Linked DNA regions of Homo sapiens. The protein of the gene in region 2 interacts with the protein of the main gene of each other region in a pairwise test. Each region holds a gene or a part of one and is shown on either strand. Other genes may lie near its edges.

The links.
Region 1: the proteins of VGLL3 (region 2) and ZNF34 interact in a two-hybrid assay, tested with the Homo sapiens proteins (one large-scale study listed by BioGRID).

Annotation. Positions count from the first base shown.
Region 1 is NC_000008.11:144,771,466-144,774,545, forward strand, and holds the end of ZNF34 (zinc finger protein 34), read right to left. Parts: coding exon 1,801-3,080; 3' UTR 759-1,800; downstream 1-758. UniProt on the Homo sapiens protein: May be involved in transcriptional regulation.
Region 2 is NC_000003.12:86,977,487-86,981,269, forward strand, and holds part of VGLL3 (transcription cofactor vestigial-like protein 3), read right to left. Parts: intron 1,317-3,783; coding exon 1,040-1,316; intron 1-1,039. UniProt on the Homo sapiens protein: May act as a specific coactivator for the mammalian TEFs.

The DNA.
Region 1 (3,080 bases), on a different chromosome or scaffold from region 2:
GTCCAACAACAAATTAACGGATAAACAAAATGTGCTACATACATACGACATAATATTACTTGGTTATAAAAAGTAATGGAAGCCGGGCGCAGTGGCTCACGCCTATCATCCCAGCACTTTGGAAGACTGAGGCGGGTGGATCACAAGGTCAAGAGATCAAGACCATCCTGGCCAACATGGTGAAACCCCGTCTCTACTAAAAATAAAAAATTAGCTGGGTGTGGTACTGCGTGCCTGTAGTCCCAGCTACTCGGGAGGCTCAGGCAGGAGAATCGCTTGAACCCGGAAGGTGGAGGTTGCAGTGAGCTGAGATCGCACCACTGCACTCCAGCCTGGCGACAGAGTTAGACTCCATCTAAAAAAACTAAAAGTAACAGAGGCCAGGCACAGTGGCTCATGCCTGCAATCCCAGCACTTTGGGAGGCCAAGGTGGGTGGATCACTTGAGGACAGGAGTTTGAAACCAGCCTGAGCAACGTGGTGAAACCCCATCTCTACCAAAAAATACAAAAATTAGCCAGGCACAGTGGCATGCGCCTATGGTCCCAGCTACTCAAGAGGGTGAGGTGAAAGAGTTGCTTGAACCTGGGAGGGTGAAGTTGCAGAGCCAAGATCATGCCATTGCACTCCAGCCTGGGTGAGTAAGACCCGGTCTCAAAAAAAAAAAAAGTAATGGAGTTCTGAAACAGGAAACAACACAGAGAAACCTTGAAAACATTATGCTGAATGAACTAAGCCAGACATAGAAAGAAACACAGATTGCATGATTCCACACATATTTATGTTCCTAGAATAGGCAAATTCAAAGAGACAGAAAATAGAATTGAGGTTACCAGCAGTAGGGAGAAGGGGGAAATGAAGAGTTATTATTTAATAGGTACAGGGTTTCTGTTTGGAGTAATAAAACAGTTCTGGAAATACACAGTGATGATGGTTACACAACACCATGAATGTACTTAATGCCACTGAATTGTACACTTAAAAATGGTTAAAATTGTAAATTTCATATTATGTTATTTCACCACAGTTAAAGGCAACTTCAACTCTATTGACATAAAAAGTATGAATGTTAAGTTTGTTTCATTTATTTTTTGAGACAGCGTCTCGCTCTGTCACCCAGGCTGGAGTACAGTGGCACAGTCTTGGCTCACTGCAACCTCCGCCTCCCAGGTTCAAGCAATGCTCCTGCCTCAGCCTCCCGAGTAGCTGGGATTACAGGCACCCACCACCACACCTGGCTAATTTTTGTATTTTTAGTAGAGACGGGGTTTCACCATGTTGGCCAGGCTGGTCTCAAACTCCTGACCTCAAGTGATCCACCCACCTTGGCCTCTCAAAATGCTGGTATTACAGGCATGAGCCACCACACCTGGCCGATGCTTTTAAATTTACAATATGTAAAAATGTTAAAATATATGGTGCTCTCTTCAGTGTGAATTTTCTGATATTGAGGAAATAGCAAAAGTGAAGATCCTAGGTGCTGCAATGACAAGCATTACGGTATTTTCTTTTTAAAATGCTCTCCAGTATGTCTCGAAAATATTCGTAAATCAGCAGCAATGAATTTTTTTTCTAAGTGGGAGAGATCACAGAAGCTTCTTTTTTGCCCACTTTTCTGTCTCAATTTCTCTAAAATGAACATGCACTGCTTTTGATTTAAGAAAAGAGGTTTGTTTAATGAGAAACGTCCTTTCACTCTGTGAAAACATCGTGTGGATAATACATAAAGGGCAGAGTCAGGTGCCGGGGGCGCATGCAGGAAGTGCTCAGCTGGACTCTGCCCTCGGACACCGCGCCACTGTTACATGGAGAAGTCCTCCCGGAGGTGAATCCGCTGATGCTGACACATGTTGGAACTGTGCCGGAAGGCCTTCCCACACTCGCTGCACTTGTAGGGCTTCTCCCCGGTGTGGATCCTCCGGTGCTGAATCAAGTACGTGCTCTGGCTGAAGGCTTTCTTGCAATCGCTGCATCTGTAGGGTTTCTCTCCGTGGTGCAGCCTCTGGTGGTGGATGAGTCTGGAACTGTTGTGGAAGGCCTTCCCACACTCGCTGCACTTGTAGGGCTTCTCTCCTGTGTGGATTCTCTGGTGCTGGATGAGGTGTGTGCTTTGGCTGAAAACTTTGCCACAGTCATTGCATTCATAGGGCTTCTCTCCAGTGTGGCTTCTCTGATGTTCCACGAGTTTGGTTTTTTGAATGAAAGCTTTCTCACATTCATTACATTTATAGGGTTTCTCTCCAGTGTGAATTCTCTGATGTTGGATAAGGTTAGAACTTTGTGTAAAGCCTTTGCCACATTCCTTGCACTCAAATGGCTTCTCTCCGGTGTGAGTCCGACGATGTCGGATAAGGATTGAGCCATCACTGAAGGCTTTCCCGCAGTCATTACATTTATAGGGTTTCTCTCCGGTGTGGATTCTCTGGTGATAAATCAGGGAAGAGTAGGCGCTAAAGTGCTTCCCACACTCCCCACACTTGTAGGGTTTCTCCCCAGTGTGAATCCTCTGGTGCTTCATGAGGTTGGGCCTCCGGGTGAATGTCTTCCCACACTCGTCACACCGGTAGGGAATCTCTCCTGAGTGCATCCTTCGGTGATTGATGAACTCGCAGCTCTGGCTGAAGGCTTTCCCACACTCATCACATTTGTAGGGCTTCTCTTCAGTGTGAAGCCGCTGATGCTTGACAAGGTTGGCACTGTACCTGAATGTTTTCCCACAGTAACTGCAATAATGCAATTTTTTCCCAGTAGGAATTTTCTGATCTTCTTTAACAACTAAGTTTGCACTGAAGATTTCCCCAGAGTTACGAACTGTATTTGTTTTTTTTGACCTGTGTACACGCTTATGGTTGTTGAGATATGATCTCTGTTCAAAACTTTGCTCACATATATCACATTTGTGAGGTCTCTGATCAGGAACAGGTCTTGACAGCAACCTGAGGTTTCCCCCAGACTCCCTGCTGCTCTCCCCGTTGGTCAGTGTGACTGCCCTGGGGCCTCTCTGCTCCACTAGCTTTTCCAGGCTCCCCTCTGACTTACTGATGTGGTCACAGGCTTCTACTGGCTCAGATCCCTGGGGAT
Region 2 (3,783 bases):
CCCACACCTTCCTATGAAGATTCTAGTTCAATAGATTCGAGATAAGGGGGTCCTGCAAACTGTCCTTAACAGGACTAGATCAATGATTATCAAACTCTGCACTGGAGTCACTGGGAGGGCTGGTTAAAACACAGATTGCCCCACCCCAGAGCTTCTGATTCTGCAGGTCTGGGGTGGAGCCCAAGAATTCGCACTTCTAACAAGCTCCCATGTGGCACTGATGTTCCTGGTCAGGAAAATCACACCTCGAGAACCATTTTACTAGATCATTCCTATAACCAGGTGAATTTGGAAGAAATCACCACTGTAGCAAATTTCTCTGAAGCTGTCATTGGAATGACGTATTATGTTTTTATCTAACCCTGTAATTACCCTGATTTAGATGTCACCAATAATTTTCTATGAGTCAGAAATCAGTTTCAAACACATCTCTGTGAGCTCGATACAGAGAGAAATAAAGGAGTCCAATGTGCTGCTCTTTCTTTATCAAGGTAAAAACACTAGTTTAAGCCATGTGGATGCTGCCAAAATGCCTAGAGTGTATACTATAAAGAGTTAATACAATAACAAATCAGGATAAAGAAGCCTATTCAAAGAACACAGACAGCTTTCAATGTCTGTATTCCTGGGTCAGACTCAGGTCTCTGGTATGTCACCACATAGCACCTATTGGAATGAGCAAGAGCTAATTTTTTAAAAGCTGATTTAGACACGCCTATTATTTAGAGATCCAAATTGGGCCACTGGGGCTTTAGGAATGGTACTTCGCAGCTCAGTGCAGCCACTATAAACTCAAGCCGGTTGTATCACTACTTTCCATGAGGAATTTAAGGGGTGTGACTGCATCCTTTCCAACCCTACATTCCACATGTGACAAAACCGATCCAGCTGTTTGTCTGAAAGAAATTCCTCACTGTCCTTAAATATTAAAAAGCAAGTGGATATCCATCCTCAGGGGCAAGTCTCCAGCTGGAACCTGGTACAGGCAGTTGCGAAACAAAGACAGTGCCCTGGAGAACATCTGCTTTTGAATTCTTACCTCGCCATAGGGGGGTTAGCCCCATCTTGCTTTTTGAAATGGCAGATTCTGGATGGAGGGTGATGGCTTGGCCCAAAGCTCTTGAGAAGTGTTCATCCACTACTGACCCAATGTCTCCCTGGAAATAAGTGAAAAGGACACAGCGAGAGTTAAGGTACTCCATCTCGGCAGGCTGGTCTTTCTCCTCCTCCTCCTCCTCCTCATCCTCCTCCTCTTGTTTGCTGGGAAGGGTGACTTCCAGAGAGTCCTGCATCTTGCTGAATACCGCTAACTTCTTCTGGGATGGAATAAACAAAACACAGTATCAAAGACAGTTTGTAGAAAAGCATTCACTAGTTAAGTTTTCACTTTTTTAAAAAAAGAATCTAAATATTAACATATGTTTGCAAACTGATTCTTCTTCATCTGTTTTACTCCATCTTTTTCCTCCCCAAACCAGTTGCCTCCTTCCCACACTAAAAAAAATACAACAAAAACTCTGTGATTCTACATTTGGCAAACGAACATAAAAGCCCATTATCAAATAGTATATTTTCAATACAAGATTTTGTTTTTGCTTTTGTTTTTGTTTTGCTTTTTGTTTTTTCATCTAGCTAGGCCAACAGGAGAATTACTTTTTTAAAAAGTTTTTCTTCCCAGTTTTGGTTTATTTTTAAAAATGCAATGTACAGCAGTGTTATGGTTTAGGACAGAGAGGAATGACTGTCTGGGGGTGGAGTGGAGAAGAAAAGAACTTTTCATAAATAAAATAAACTAAAATAAAAACAGGAATGTAGCATCTTATAAAAGGATTTGGCAGATGTGCTGAACTCATGTCTTCAAAAATCAAACTAAAATGGCAAAATAAGTCTGTGTGAAGATGCATTTTGCATGGAACATATTTTTTAGATGTTCCGTTTACCACCATTATCATGAGGGGAAAAGATTTCATTATGGCTTAGTGAAAATATTACAAAATACTAGTAGTGGGTTAATCTTTCAATTAAAAATGAGAAAGATTTGTTAATTTAAAATGTTTAAAAATATAATTCTAATAATAATATACATTATTTCAGACATGTTTCTAAAACTTTATATTTATCACCTCACTTAATCTTTACAATTCTATAACATGGCTATTAATACTATCCATATTGTAAAGATTAAAAAGCTAAAGCACAGAAAAATTAAGTTACTTGCCAAAAGTCACAAATCATGTAAGCTGCAGAGTCAGAATGCATAAGAAAAACATACAGGTATAGACATGTGTGTGCATATATATGTTCTGAGGAATGGCAGGGAGGGATATCTAGCATATAGATATGCGTGTGCATACATTTGGTGGGGAAAGGCAGGGAGGGATATCTAGAGTAAAAAAATTACAAAAATGTATTTTGTATTGTTTTTCTGTGTAATACGTTTATAGTTAATTGTCATTTTCTTATTTCTGCTTTTCAGTATTTCCAAACATTTTTCACTGAGCACATATTCCATTTATTATCAACTTCAATGCGAATTACATATAAGGAGATAATGCTAAAGATATGAAATGTATTATTCTAGTGACGAAATGAGCTTTCTCTGTCATCTTTATGTCTGCAAAACCTGATCCTTGATCATACCTTTTTTTTTTTTTTACTTTGAAAAAAACGCATGCTGGAAAATGAATGTGAGTAGAAATAGATAAATCACTCCAGAATACCCAGTAATTTTTCAAATGTTAGCAAAATACATACCCCAGACTCTATATTTCTAATGTAATTACTAGCTTCAATATCTATAGCTTCAAATTATAAATGCACCATTCAATAAATTGGTCCCTTTCCCCTAGCAGTGAATATGTTGTTCTTGTATAAGGTGAGTACTGAAATATTCAGAAATACTATGAACTTCTAGTTATCGTTTCAGGATGGTTATTTATAAATATGTGTTTTGCTTTTATTTAAAATTCGTATCAGTATGGTTATGATTTGTTGATGAATAGATAATTCATACTTTGTAAGTGAATGTGCCTTGCTGATGAATAGATGATTGCTTTTATTTCTCATAATCTACCTCTGCACAGATTTGAACATGTTTATATTTAACTTCAATAGTATAAACACCATAGAAACATATGGTATGTGTAAAATGAGGGAATCGAACTAAATAACCTCTAAAACTATTCCTAGTTTTAAATTCCATTAAAAAATTAAATGAATATTATGATTTATTAGTCAAATCACAGTGCTGCTTCTTCGGGTGCATGTGTATTTACCTAAAACATGTATTGTTTTAACCATATGCACACACTCTCTGCTGAATATTCGGGCACATTAGAAAGCAGCTCTGTTTTTCTATGAAAAAAAAAAACCCTAAAACCTATCTACATGGTGGCATCATTGTCCACAAGTGTTCATTCTTATCCGTGAAACTAATTTCTTTTTTCTGTTAATGTCCAGCTCAGCATCAGTTTGTGAGAGTGGGGCTTTGCATATAAATGCTTTATTTGTTTAATTGTAACATTCATTCTTTAAATAGAAGAGCCTGGCTACATTAACAATCCAAATAAAGTCAAAGTTTTATTTTATCCTTAATTGACAGCAATTAATTCTTAGATGAAATAAAATTGAAGTTATATATATGTAAAGGATTTGAAGGCCATGAATCCTGATACAAACGTCAAATAGTATTCTTATCAATAGTAGCAATCATAAAATATCAATTTTAAAATCGATATTTTAAAATCCATTAAACTATTGTATTTAAACTATAGAATTTCAATT